Linked DNA regions of Homo sapiens: region 1 is linked to region 2. A link means that fine-mapping ties the variant in region 2 to the plasma level of a protein whose gene starts in the linked region. Region 2 holds a variant in brackets. A gene starts in the other region. All regions are shown on their reverse strands. Region 1 holds the start of APLP1 (amyloid beta precursor like protein 1). Region 2 overlaps SRGN (serglycin).

The links. PIP is the chance, under the fine-mapping model, that this variant and not a neighbour inherited with it causes the effect. The UK Biobank Pharma Proteomics Project read protein levels with antibody pairs (Olink). The fine-mapping took linkage between variants from a reference panel, not from the people measured, so its PIPs are less certain.
Region 1: it holds the start of APLP1, and the variant in region 2 is fine-mapped to the plasma level of the APLP1 protein (UK Biobank, PIP above 0.99).

Annotation. Positions count from the first base shown.
Region 1 is chr19:35,863,502-35,869,985 of GRCh38, reverse strand. It overlaps APLP1 (amyloid beta precursor like protein 1), which reads right to left and starts at 1,412. Exons shown (of 17, transcript NM_001024807.3): 1 at 1,203-1,412; 2 at 176-319. The coding sequence starts at 1,349. KIRREL2 (kirre like nephrin family adhesion molecule 2) reads right to left here. Exons shown (of 15, transcript NM_199180.4): 14 at 5,273-5,338; 15 at 2,850-3,829. The coding sequence ends at 3,494. It overlaps LOC107985317 (a long non-coding RNA gene), which reads left to right and starts at 629. Exons shown (of 4, transcript XR_001753932.2): 1 at 629-894; 2 at 1,856-2,111; 3 at 3,393-3,499. RefSeq lists silencers at 1,172-1,241, 1,332-1,591.
Region 2 is chr10:69,093,867-69,101,866 of GRCh38, reverse strand. SRGN (serglycin) reads right to left here. Exons shown (of 3, transcript NM_002727.4): 2 at 4,636-4,783. Among named protein-coding and RNA genes, the nearest start is that of SRGN, 9.8 kb to the right of the region's middle. The variant C/T (reference allele first, on the strand shown) is at 4,771.

The sequences.
Region 1 (6,484 bases), not on the chromosome of region 2:
CCTTTTCCTGACTTAGTATCTCAAAACAGGTCCCCTGCCCCTAGCATAGTTGCGCCTCTTTATTGGCCACGCCCCCCAGCCTCCACGCCTTAGATCGCGCAGCACCCTGGACCACGCCTTTTTCAAGTCTAGCTTTCTATGGGCGGCCCCGCCTCTCCCGTTCGGCCCCGCCCACCTGTCTGCAGTACTCCAGCACGCGCTGCGGGTCCCGGAGACAGCGTCGAGAGCGCTGTGGGTCTGGTTCCCAGCGGCCGGTGCGCAGGTCCCGGTGAAGGGTTAGGCGCCCGCATAGTCCAGCCACCTGGGCCGACCCCGGGGCCTGGATGGAAGTGGAAAGGACAGTGAGGGCTCGGGGGGCGTTGGCATGAGGGTCCCCTGGTTCTTTGCTCCCTAGGACCGAGACCCCCAGCACCAGCCCCCTCCCCCAAGCACCGCACACCGCCTCCATGGAGGCACCGTTCCCTGGGAAACAGCTCCCGTAGGGCGGGGGCGCCCCAGCGCTCCCGTTGCTATGGCGACCTGGGTCCCCCGGGATTCTTTCTGCCTTGTTGCCGCGGAGACAGACTCCGCCCCCACCCCAGCGCAGCCGCTCTGGAGCCCGAAGGGGTTAAACCTGAATCGCGGAGGAGGAGGCCAGAACCCAGGAGTTCTGGCCCCTCCTCCCTCCATCCCTTGCTCAGGCTCCCGTTGCAGGATGCAAAGCTGACAAGGCCTGGCTTCAGGGGCCTACAGTCCTGGACACCAGGTCCTTGAGGACTGGAGAGCTACATCTGGTTGGGGTGGGTGGTGACTGAAGGACTGGACTCCTGGGTCCTGGGAGGCTGCAAGGGCCTCCATATGGGTCCAGAGAATACAAGGGGTCTGGATTATTGGATCTAAATGCCTCGCTGCTTGGTGGGTCCTATGTCCAGGCGGGAGGGGGTTGGGGCCGAGTCACCTGGGTCTGGAGAGGGGGCTGGACTTCTGGGACCAGGGGCTCTGAATAGACCAGTTCCTATGCTCGAGATGGGAGGGGGCTGGGACGTCGCATGATGGGGGAGCTGGGGCCTGGAACCCTGGGTTCATAAATGTGATTGGGGGCGCCTGGGGGCTGACCACCTGGCTGGAAAGACCGCGCTTTCTGCCCTGGACATGTCCGCGCCGGCGTCCAGAGACCCGGTCCCGCCCCTTCCCCCATCCCCCAGGACCCGGCCCGGCCTCACCTCGGCCGCGCCGGGGCTCCCACCGGCCAGGCTCCCGATGGCGGGCTGCGCGCGCAGAAGCAGCAGCAATAGTGGCAGCAGCAGCGGCAGCGGCGGCTGGCCCGGGCGGCGACTTAGACCGCGAGCAGCGGGGCTGGCGGGCCCCATGTCCCGGCCCTTGCGCCCTCACGTCCCCTGCACTCCCGCCCGGCCCGGCCCCAGCGGTGACAGGAGCTCCCAGCGCCACCGCCGCCACCTCCTCCTCCCGCCGCCCCCGGGCTGCGCCGGCGCCGCCAGCCCCGCCCCGCGCCGGCCCCGCCTTCCTGGTCAGGACAATAGCGTGGCGGCTTCGCGCAGAGTGGAGCAGCTCGGGAACCCCGGGCGGGAGCCTGCGCCAGGCCCCCGCCCCTCGAGATTCCAGGCGTCCCGCCCCATGAAGGGCCCAGCCAGGAGTCCGGCTATGGGCTCCGCCCGTTGTGGATTTTGAGTCCTCCCGCAGGACTCTCACCCTCTTTAGACCCAGACACTCACAGTTTTGTCCTTTTCCAAGGATGCAAGCATCAGAGACCCCCATCCCCTAGTACATTCCTCTGTTGAGGGCTCAGGAATACAGGCCTCCAAAATGTCCCCAGTCAAGAAGGCAGCAGTTGAGACCTAGTCCCTTCCTCTTTCAGATCCAGAAGTCTGGGCACCTTCTCTCTCAGGACCAGAGACCAAGCCCCCAGCCCATTCTCCTTCAGACCCAGGAGTTCACTCTTCTTGCTCTGCTTCCCAAGGGTCCCAGGGGCCTGGACCTTTAACTCCTAGCTCAAGGATCCATGAACCAAAGCCCCCAGGACCTTTCTTTAAGGATCATCCAAGCAGGCACCAGCACCATGCCCACTGTGGATGCAGCACCTCAGGATTAGGGTCTGGATCTCCACGCTTGCTGTAAGGACCAGGGGATTGCCATTTTCCTACCCATAGTCTCCCCTTCCCTGCTCCACTTCAGGGCTCACTTGTTTGTCTCCTCTAATGAGAGTTAGAATTCAGTCTTCCCCAGGACCCCTGGGGCAGCCCTGTCACTTGTGTGCAACTGTGTGGACATCTATGCGTGTGTCTGTGCATACATGCCTATGTGTGTGTCTTTTCTGTTTGCAACTCATGTGTGTGTGTGCGTGTGTGTGTGTGTGTGTGTGTGTGTGAAGATGTATATTAAAAGAGCCCATGGCTGGGCACAGTGGCTCATGCCTGTAATCCCAGCACATTGGGAGGCCTAGGTGGGCGGATCACTTGAGGTCAGGAGTTTGAGACCAGCCTGGCCAACATGGTGAAACCCTGTCTACAAACAAATACAAAAATTAGCTGGGTGTGGTGGCATGCACCTGTAGTCCCAGCTACTTGGGAGGCTGAGGTGGAAGGATGGCTTGAGCCCAGGATGCAGAGGTAGCAGTGGGCTGAGATCATGCCACTGCACTCCAATGTGGGCCATAGAGCCAGATCTTGTCTCAAGAAAAAAAAAAAAAGAGCCTAGAGTGCTTTGCAGGTAGCAAGAGGCTGAGAGGTGGCTCACAGTTTTACTCCTACAGCCACCTCATAGGCTAGGGTAGAGGAGGGACCTTGGGACAGGTCTAAGGGACCCCTTCCTTGGTGGAGAGTGATAATGCCAGTAGACTCCCTAAGACACACTTGCCTCTTTGACTTTTTTTTATTATTAAACATAAATATTTTTATCCCAATATTTTGCCCCAACAGTGGTAATTCTCACTGTATCCCCACTCCTTGGGTCCAAGTCTTTCTGAGTCTTTAAGGAAAGTAAAATCAAGATGGTGGCCATCTTGGGTTCCTAGGGAGTATATGGCCATCTTGGCTGCATTTCCATTGGCCGAGCAAAGTTCCCCTCAGGGAGAGCCAGGGTGGGGCCTGGTATGCTCTTCATCTTCATCTATCCTATGCTACCTTTCCTCTCAATGCAGATGGTCATCTTGAAATATCTTCTTTCAGTGGCTAGAAACAACTTCCATCCCGGCCCCAAACTCCCAACACCCACTGCCCTGTCCCCATCTCTCCTCAAAGGGCCTACCTGCCATCTTGAATCTCTTTTACACCGGGGAATAGGTGGGCATATTGGGTGGCCATGTTGCTCCCACTTGGGGCATCTCCTTTGGCTGAGCTGACTGTATACAAATGCTCCTGACAAATGTAATGATCTTTCCCTCCCCTTGTGTTCAGTTTTGGAGGAGTAAGGTCGCCAACTTGTCCTGGCTCCTCAGAAATCAGAACAATCCATTATGGCAAGTTGGAGATCCCAGGACTCTTCCATTGGAAAGATGTCACACGTGAGTCTGGAGACGCGGGTGGCTAGGTGTGGGGAAGGCAGCATATGGGAAGGGGGGAGTCCCGGGGGCCAGATCTGGGGGCCCAAAGGATGTGGGTTTGATGTAGCTGGTGAAAGCTCGAGGGTGGGGTGTGGTGAGATAGCCTGCCCTGGCTCTGTAAAGTCTGCAGGGGGGGACCATGCCCAGGTGTGGGTTGAAGTCATAGAAGGTAGGGGTCCCTGGGGGCCCAAGGGGGGAGGGTGGTGGCAGGAAGAGACCTCCTCCAGGGGCTTCGCCAAGGCTCAGGCTCACACTGACTCCTCGGACCTTGTAGTAACCGTTGGTTGGGTCCTGAGGGGACAAATGGGACTCAGTAAAGTCTGTGAGCGTGCAGGGGGGATGAGGGTCACTGATGGAGAGACACACTGAAATAGACCAGACCTTGAGAGAGACAAAAAGAGACAGGAGTGGGCAGAGACACAGAGACACACATGGACTGGGAGAGAGAGAAAGTGAGACAGAGGAACAGTGATAAGAGGCAAATGGATAGGACATAGGCAGAGAAAGGTAGAGACGGAGGGATATAGGCCTGCTGAGGGGTGTCGGTGTGGAAGGTGCAGAGGGAACAGGAGAGAGACACTCACCTGCCCAACAGCCTCTAGGCTTTGATTCAGTGTCACACCCTGTGTTGCTGCTACAAGGCATGTCACTAGGATAGAACTGGACCCTGTCCTCACAGAATCCCACACCAAAGGAAAAATGACAGATCATGAGACAGTACCCAGAGGGGTCAGGGCTGTGCCTGGGAAAGGCATAGGCAATGACAGGGGCTGTGATGGTAGAGCCCTCAGCATAGTGGGTGGGATAAGGAAGCCCAGATCAGAGTGGTCATGGCTGTGATGGGTGGAACACAGGCAAAATGATCGAGCTGTCATGACGGAAGCATGGGCTTCCTAGAACAAGAAATGTCTGAGCTGAGACTGGAGGACTAAAGGAAGGAATTAGGTAGACATGGGAAGGAAGGTAGGAGTGTTTCAGGCCAAGAGAATGGCATGTCGGCTGGGCACAGTGGCTCACGCCTGTAATCCCAGCACTTTGGGAGGCTGGGGCGAGCGGATCACTTGAGGTCAGGAGTTCCAGATCAGCCTGGCCAACATGGTGAAACTCCATCTCTACTAAAAATACAAGAAAAATTAGCCAGCTATTAGGGAGCCTGAGGCAGGAGAATGGCTTGAACCCAGGAGGCAGAGGTTGCAGTGAGCTGAGATTGCACCACTGCACTCCAGCCTGGGCAACAGAATGAGACTCCGTCTCAAAAAAAAAAAAAAAAAAAAGAAGAGAGAGAATGGCATGTGCTAGGTACGCAGGAGAGAGAGAGAGAGAGAAGTGCTCTGGCCTGGGGATGGCCTGGAGTCAATGTGGCTGTCCTGAGGTAGGACCCCAGAGGAAGAACCAGTCTGGGGAGATGTGGGGCCAGTGTAGGACCTGGTGGCTGAAAGGGGGCTTGACCGTGATGAGGAGAGCACAGGCAGGGTGAGCCCTGGTCTGGGGCTCCAGATGGAGGCTAGGGCTGGGACAGATGTGTGGGAAGAGTCTGCAGACAGGCAAACTGAGGCTGGGAGCTGAGTGAGATGGCCCAGGGGGCAGGAGGAGTGGGGTGGGGAGCTGAGTCCCAACTCTGAGGACAACAGAAGGAAAAAGGAGGGGACAGGCGTGGGAGAGAGACGGAAACACAATGAAGGGAGCCCCGCCTCTCCCAACAGTGAAGGGAGCCCCACCCCTCTCAACACTCACCTTGGTCTCCAGAGTCCCTTCCTCCTCCAGAACCAGATCACTGTGGTCAGTGTGCACAATGGGGCCCTGGGGTAGGGAACTTAGTGAGAGGGAATAGTCAGAGGATCCCCCCGCCCCAATGCCAGACCCCAAGGACCTTCAGCCAGCCAGTGGAGGCCAGGCAGGAGGGAGTAAGAGCACCCAAGAGCTGGGGACTGCACTCAGGACAATAAAAGGGCTGTAAGAAGCCAGCACAGTGGCTCATGCATGTAATCCCAGCACTTTGGGAGGCCGCAGCAGGAGTATCACTTGAGGCCAGAAGTTTGAGACCAGCCTGGCTAACATGCCGAAACTCTGTCTCTACTAAAAATGCAAAAAATAGGCAGGCATGGTGGCAGGCACCTGTAATTTCAGCTACTCAGGAGGCTAAGGAACGAGAATCACTTGAACTGGGAGGTGGAGGGTGCAGTGAGTCTGGATTGCACCACTGCATTCCAGCTTGGACGACAGAGCAAGACTCTATCTCAAAAACAACAACAACAACAACAACAACAACAAAAACGGGCTGTGGGGACATACTGGGCCTAGGGAATAATTGGGTCAGGGGCATGGACTTGGGTGACATTTGGGTGTGGGGTCACTGTTAAGACTAGAGCCCTTGGCCGGGCGCGGTGGCTCACGCCTGTAATCCCAGCACTTTGGGAGGCCGAGACGAGCGGATCACGAGGTCAGGAGATCCAGACCATCCTGGCTAACACGGTATACACCTCGTCTCTACTAAAAATACAAAAAAATTAGCTGGACATGGTGGCGGGTGCCTGTAGTCCCAGCTACTCTGGAGGCTGAGGCAGGAGAATGGTGTGAACCCGGGAGGTGGAGCTTGCAGTGAGTCGAGTTCGCGCCACTGCACTCCAGCCTGGGCTACAGACCAAGACTCCGTCTCAAAAAAAAGAAAGAAAGAAAAAAAAAGACTTGAGCCCTCAGGCCGGGCGTGGAGGCTCATGCCTGTAATCCTAGCACTTTGGGAGGTCGAGGCGGGTGGATCACCTGAGGTCAGGAGTTTGAGACCAGCCTGGCCAACATGGTGAAACCCAATCTCTACTAAAAATACAAAATCAGTCAGGCGTGGTGGTGGGCGCCTGTAATCGCAGCTACTCAGGAGGCTGAGGCAAGAGAATCACTTGAACCAGGGAGGCAGAGGTTGCAGTGAGCCGAGATCGCAGCACTGTACTC
Region 2 (8,000 bases):
GTTGCCCAGGCAGGCTGGTCCTGAACTCCTGGGCTCAAGTGATCCTCCTGCCTTGGCCTCCCGAAGTGCTGGGATTACATGCATGGCCCAGTTAGCTGTTTTTGAAGGCAATTAAGGATCAAGTAAGCTGAAAATAGAGAAGTAATCAGTGACTTTGTCAACCAGGGTGGAGTGTAGGAACAGAAGTCCAGCCACAGAGGGGGTGAGGAAAGGAGGGGGCAGGCATGGGTGGCCCTTTCAGGAGGTGTTATTGTGAAGAGGAGCAGAGAAGGGCAACCACTGGAGAAGACGCAGAGTCAAAGGAGAGATGTTGCCTAAACATAGGAGATACTAAAGTCCACCCCTATACTGATGGGAAGAAGACACTGAGTTCAGAGAGATAACTGCAGAATGGAAGTCCTGGAGAAGATGCATGGGAAAAGGATACCAGCCACAAAGAGAGGTGGCCTTGGAAGCTGCAACAGCCAGGGTCCAATCAGGAAACTTCTCCAGATATTTAACACAGAGGGAATTCCTCATACAGGTGATGGAGGAGAAGTGAAGCTAAATGGGGGATAGCGAGGTAACCCAGAGATTAGCAATAGCAAGAAAATATTTCCTTCGGCCAGGCACAGTGGCTCATGCCTGTAATCCCAGCACTTTGGGAGGACGAGGCAGGCAGATCATTTGGGGTCAGAAGTTCAAGACCAGCCTGGTCAACATGGCAAAACCCCGTCTCTACCAAAAATACAAAAATTAGCTGGGCATAGTGGCACACCCTGGAGGCTGAGGCAGGAGAATCACTTGAACCCGGGAGGCAGAGGTGGCAGTGAGCTGAGATCGCACCACTGCACTCCAGCCTGGGCAACAAGAGTGAGACTCTGTAAAAAAAAAAAAAAAAAGAAAGAAAGAAAGAAAAAAATACTTCCCTCCTTGGGCTACAGCGATAGTGGAAGGAGGTTGTCTATTTCCTGAGCCCAGGGACTAGAGGCATCTGGTGGGAGCTGAGGCCATGGGCAAAACAGAGTCCTGCCCAAGGTGCCATCCCAGGCAGGGAGTAAGGAGAAGAAACATACCTCTCTCCCTTCCTCCCAAGCTCTCAGTCTCCCGTCCTTGCCTCCCATTGGCCAAAGTCAGCCACAGCCCTGGGAGCCTGAGAAATGCAGACGCCAGGGGTCAGTTCCACCGCCACCCCCACCCCACAGCCAATACAGAGCAGGGCCAGGGAAGGACAGGAGGATCTGAGGGCAAAAGGGTTTGGGATCAGCACAGAAGCAAGGACCATTCTTTCGCAATGACGGGAAAGAAAGCACAGGGTCAGGGTGAGAAGCAGTTACTGGCTTTGGGGAAGGAAAATAGAGATTTGAGAAGAGGAGGAATGGTGTGCAAGAGTTCTTTTGGAGAATTTGAGCTATTCTCTTAACATTTTATTTTATTTTTTAATTTTAGTTTTAATTGTATTTATTTATTTTAAATGTGTTTATTTATTTTGAGACAAGGTTTTAGTCTGTCACCCTGGCTGGAGTGCAGTGCCACACCATGGCTCACTTCAGCCTTGACCTCTCAGGATCAAGCAATCCTCCCACCTCAGCCTTTCGAGTAGCTGGACCACAGGCATGCATGGCTAGTTTTTGTGTCTTTCTATAGAGACGAGGTTTCTCCATGCTTGGCTAATTTTTGTATTTTTCTGTAGAGACAGGATTTCTCCATGTTACCCAGGCAGGTCTCAAAGCAATCTGCCTGCCTTGGCCTCCCAGTCTGCCTGCCTCGGCCTCTCAATAGCTGGGATTACAGGCGTGCCACCATGCCCAGCTAATTTTTGTATTTTTAGTAGAAATGGGTTTCCGCCATGTTGGCCAGGCTGATCTTGAACTCCTGACCTCAAGCTATCCGCCTCGGCCTCCCAAAGTGTTGGGATTACAGGCGTGAGGCACAGCGCCGGGCCACTAATTTTTAGAGATGGGGTCTTGCCGTGTTGCCCAGGCTGGTCTCAAATTCTTGGCCTCAAGTGATTCTCCCACCTCAGTCTCCCAAACTGGGGGGATTACAGGCATGAGCCACTGCAGCCTAACATTTTAGATTTAAATGAATTACTATTGAAACCAATGATTTAAAGTAATGAAGGATGCTGTAATATTACATTCAAACTTAATGCTGAGGCTTTAAAGTAAGAATGCAAGAGTAGGACTACAAAGTTGCATATTGAAGATTGTAATGATGTCATCACTAATGCAGTGAATACCAGTGATGGAGAAAGTCACCAGTGATGGAGAAAGTCACCAGCGCTGGGAATGGTGGCTCATGACTGTAATTCCGGCACTTTGGGAGGCTGAGGTGGGAGGACTGCTTGAGTTTAGGAGTACATGACCAGCCTGGGAAATGTACAGAGACCCCTGTCTCTACAAAAAAAAATTTTTTTAATTAGATGGGCATGGTGCTGTGTGCCTGTGGTCCCGCTACTTGGGAGGCTGAGGCAGGAAGATCACTTGAGGAGTTCGAGGCTGCAGTGAGCTATGATCACACCACTGCACTCCATCCTGGGTGACAGAGGAGACCCTGTCTCAAAAAAAAAAAAAAACAAAAGAGAAAGTTGCCAGGATCCCAAAGTGATGTGAAATGTACCTGGTTTGGAGCATGATGATTAACCCTGGCTTTGAGGAGAGTGATTTTCTAGGTTTGAGCCTGGAGATTAAAACTTTTATGATAATCCTTTTCTTAATATGTATATTTTGCTACATCCTACATAGCTTTAGTATTCATTGAATTAATGGTTTCTAATATAATTCAATTTTTTGTTACTTATGAATTTATATCAGGTCTTTTTTGCAAGTTTAAAGCAAGTTTTATGTGATCAAAAGAAGAGATTTGATTTTTGTTTTACAAGTCTTGGCTAATTATTCTTCCTTTCCCTAATTTTTTTTTTCTTTTTTTGAGACAGAGTCTTACTCTGTTGCCTAGGCTGGAGTGCAATGGCATAAATAGGGTTCACTGCAGGCTCAACATAGGCTCAAGAGATTCTCCTACCTCAGCCTCCCGAGTAGCTGGGACCACAGGTGCACATCACTATGCCTAGCTAATTTTTGTATTTTTTGTAGAGACAGGGTCTTGCTGTATGGCCCAGGCTGGTCCCAAACCTCCTGGGCTCAAGGGATCCTCCCACCTCAGCCTCCCAAGGTGCTGGGATTACAGGCATGAGCCTCTGCACCTGGCCATTTTTAAAAATAATTACCAACTACTTGAAGAACATTTTTTTAATATAAAAAATGTATTTGAAATAGAGATAGGGTCTCACTATGTTGCCCAGGCTGGCCTCAAACTCCTGGGCTCAAACAATCCTCCCGCCTCGGCCTCCCAAAGTGCTGGGATTACAGGCATGAGCCACCACACCTGGCAGAAGAACATTTTAATCACCTCCTCCAAAAAAAACCCTCATACCCATTAGCAGTCACTCCTTATTCCTCCCTTTCCCCAGCCCCTGTAACCCACTAATCTACTTTCTGCCTCTAGGGATTTGCCTATTCTGGACATTTCATCTAAATGGAATCATACAATATGTGGCTTTTGGTGTCTGGCCTTCCTTCACTCTGCATAATGTTTCCAAGGTTTATCTATGTTGTAGCATGTATCAGTACTTCATTCTTTTTATGACCCAATAATATTCCTTTGTATGCTTATACCACATTTTGCTTATCCATTCAGTTAATTATTGGATTTTTATATATAGTGTGTTCTGTTTACACAAATAAAACAATGTTCAATCATTTTCAATACCTGTTGATGAAAAGTCCTCAATGCTCCTCTCTACCATCCACAAAAAAAATTTCAAAAACATAGGTGAATCATGTATACTCGCACATGTCATATGCCAGTATATACAGTACACTTTTACCATGTACTGCAGAGTAAGAGCCAAACTACCAAAGCAAGAGCTCGAAGCAAAACACTCTGGACAGCTTGAAGAAAAACACTCCCACATCTGTGCCAAGAGGTTGTGAAATTACAGACACTTTAAAATTAGAGAAAAGGCCGGGTACAGTGGCTCATGCTTGTAATCCCAACACTTTGGGAGGCCAAGGTGGGTGGATCACCTGAGGTCAGGAGTTTGAGACCAGCCTGGCCAAGATGATGAAAGCCCGTCTCTACTAATAATACAAAAAATTAGGCCAGGCGCAGTGGCTCACGCCTGTAATCCCAGCATTTTGGGAGGTCAAGGCGGGCGGATCACTAGGTCAGGAGATCGAGACCATCCTGGCTAATAAGGTGAAACCCCGTCTCTACTAAAAATACAAAAAAATTAGCCGGGCGTGGTGGCGGGTGCCTGTAGTCCCAGCTACTCGGGAGGCTGAGGCGGGAGAATGGCGTGAACCCAGGAGGTGGAGCTTGCAGTGAGCCGAGATTGCGCCACTGCACTCCAGCCTGAGCGACAGACTGAGACTCCGTCTCAAAAAAAAAAAAAAAAATTAGCTGGGCATGGTGGCAGGCGCCTGAAATCCCAGCTGCTCCAGAGGCTGAAGCAGGAGAATCGCTTGAACCCAGGAGGCGGAGGTTGCAGTGAGCTAAGATTGCGCCATTGCACTCCAGCCTGGGCAAGAAAAGTGAAACTCCGTCTCAAATAAATAAGTAATTAATTAATTAATTAGAGAAAAGTCCACTTACGGAAAAAGGTCAGTCCTCAGACGGGGGATCTTGTTGGATTCACCTGGAAGTAGTTCGAACATTGGTCCTTTTTCTTCAAGGCAGTTTGCAGAATTACTGTCTGGATTGCAGCGCACCCATTGGTACCTGGCTCTC[C/T]GCGTAGGATAACCTGCCCGAGGAACCCACATTGTTACTAAGTATCTACTACACAGCTTCTAATCACTCTGTCCTAAGAAGTTTTTATTTTTATTTTTTTTTCGAGACAGGGTCTCAGTCGGCTGCCCAAGCTGGAGTGCAGTACTGTGATCATAGCTCACTGCAACCTTGAACTCCTGGGCTCAAGCCATTCTCCCACCCCAGCCTCTTGAGTAGCTGGGAATACAGGGGCACCACAACGCCCAGCTAGTTTTGTTTTGTTTTTGTTTGTTTGTTTGTTTTTTGGAGAGATGGGGGTCTCACTATGTGCCCAGGCTGGTCTCAAACACCTGGGCTCAAGCAGTCCTCCTGCCTTGGCCTCCCAGTGTGCTGAGATTACAGGAATGAGCAACTGCACCCCACCCGCCCTAAGAAGGTTTTAACTAAATAGATTCTAAATTTGGTAAAAGGCAAAATGTAGACAGATTTTGTGCCCATTCATATAACAGCAGCACCCACTATGTGCCAACATTTTATATAAATTGTCCTTCTTACAACACTCCAAAAAGTAGCAGTTTAAAGTTAGAATAGGCTTTGGAATCAGCTGCCTGGAGTGAAGTCCCAGGTCTGCTGACTAGTTATGGAACCTTAACTTCTCTGAACCCTCACTGTAATATGAAGATACTAATAGTGTCATAAGCCTATCACAAAAATTAAATGAGAAAATACACTTAGAGAATTTAACACAGTGCCAGGCACACAGTAAGCACTTGATAATATTAACTGTTGTTACTTTTGTACTATTATCTCAATTTTACACAAAAGAAAATTGCAGCCACACAGGCGCTAGGATTCCAACCCACATCTGACCCCAAAGCCCACATCTTTTCATAGAGATGAGTCAAATCAGGTTCAGAAAGGGGAAGGAACACACTGTGGAGTACCCGTGGTATCACAGAATTCTAGTTCTTGTGTTTTAGGGCCATACAGTATCCTTAGGAATGAAAAGTAGATAACAATTTGTCCTGTGTCTTTGCACTCAGATTTCACAAGAACAAGTCTCCTCTATTCACAGAGCACCAGGCAGCTTGGAATATCTGAGTCTCAGCTTCTTCTGAATTTCATTTCTATGGAAAAGGCTCCAAATCTGATATTATGAGGTTATATAGGAGATTTATTTATGTATTTATTTTATTTTATTTTATTGAGAGAGAGTCTTGCTGTGTCGCCCAGGCTGGAGTGCACTGTCACGATCTCGGCTCATGGCAACCTCCACCTCCCGGGTTCAAGCAATTTTTCTGCCTCACCCTCTGGAGTAACTGGGATTACAGGCACTCACCACCACGCCCAGCTAATTTTTAGTATTTTTAGTAGAGATGGGGTTTTGCCATGTTGCCCAAGCTGGTCTCAAACTCCTGAGCTCAGGCAATCCACCCACCTTGGCCTCTGAAAATGTGAGGATTACAGGCGTGAGCCACCATGCCCGGCCTATATAGGAGGTTCTTTGTTAGCTAATGAAATAAAATCTTCCTTCCTCAGTTTAGCAAAGACAAAGGCCTGGTGGTGAGAAATACTTCACCGCCCTTCAAAAAGTTCATCTCCTCCCCACTCCAAGCATATACTTTATTCTAATGAGTGCAACTAATAATTACCTAGCAAGAAGGAGCATGTCTAGGATTCTTGAAAGTCAGGAAGGGTAGTTTTAAAGCTCACCACAAAATAATGGAAAACATTCAGATAAATTACAAGGCATCAACTCATAAGAGAATACTAACCAAATGAAGAAAAGTACTTTTTTTTTTTTTTTTTTGAGATGAAGTCTCGCTCTGTTGCCCTGGCTGGGATGCAGTGGCACAATCTCGGCTCACTGCAACCTCTGCCTCCCAGGTTCAAGCGATTCTCCTGCCTCAGCCTCCCGAGTAGCTGGGATGACAGGTGCCCACAATCATATCCAGCTAATTTTTGTATTTTTAGTAGGGATGGGGTTTCACCATGTTGGCCAGGCTGGTCTCGAACTCCTGACCTCAGGTGATCCACCCGCCTCAGTCTCCCAAAGTGCTGGGATTACAGGTGTGAGCCACCACACCCGGCCGAAAGTACTTTTTATGGAAAAGACAATGTGGCATTGTAGAAAAACCTATACTTAAAAATGAGTGAGAGGGTGAGAGGCGGGTAGGCAAAAACTTTTTTTTTTAATAAAATAAAAATAAAAATTAGGTTGGGTGTGGTAGCTCATGCCTGAAATCCCAGCACTTTGGGAGACTGAGGTGGGAGGATCACTTGAGCCCAGGAGTTCAATACAGGCTGGGCAACATAGAGAGACTCCCATTTCTACCAAAAAAGAGAAAAAAGATTTTAAAAATTAGCTGGATGTGGTAGCACACATCTGCAGTCCCAGCTACTTAGGAGGCTGAGGCAGGAAGATTGCTTGAGACTGGGAGGTCACAGTGAGCCAAGATTGCACGGCTGCACTTCAGCCTGGGTGACACAGCGAGACTGTCTCAGAAGAAAAAAGTTTATTTACAAAATTAAAAATAAATAAAAATAACTGAGAAAATCAGAATACCTCTTTGCATGAATAATAGTTTCAATTATATAAACAGACATGGGGGGAAAAATGGAAGGAAATACACAAAAATAACTGGAGGTAGAATCTTTGGTGATTTTTTTTCTCATTTTGTTTTCTAAATTGCTATAATAAACAATATTCCTCTAAAAACATAAACATTAAACACTTTAATATAGAAAACAGTAAATATTCTCCCATTGGATTTTCTTTCTTTTCTTTGTAACTATATATTATTCTATCATAATCTTTCCTATGATTCCTGAGTATAGCTTACAATGTCTGGTCTGGGAGAGCTGTTTGTCCAAAATGAGCTAACTCTGCCACTGCCTGGAGGCTGGGGATAAGGCAGGCAAAATGACCTTTCAATGTCTGCCCCTTACTGGCTGTGTGATCTTGGCCAACTTAAACTTCCTGTGCCTCAATTTTCTCATCTGTAGGATGGGGCAGTAATAGAGTTAATAAGGAGATACAAATGTTAGGTTCTCAGAGTAGTACCTAGCACATAGTCAGAGCTCTTCATTGCTAGTTCCTGTCATGAAAAGGAGGAGGACAACAATGACCTATGATCTCCGAGAGTGAACATCTTATAAATTTAAATTCAAATTCCCATTCTACCATTTAGTATCTCTAGGAGTCTCAATTTATGGACTTTCTTTCTTTTCTTTTTTATTTTTCCTTATTT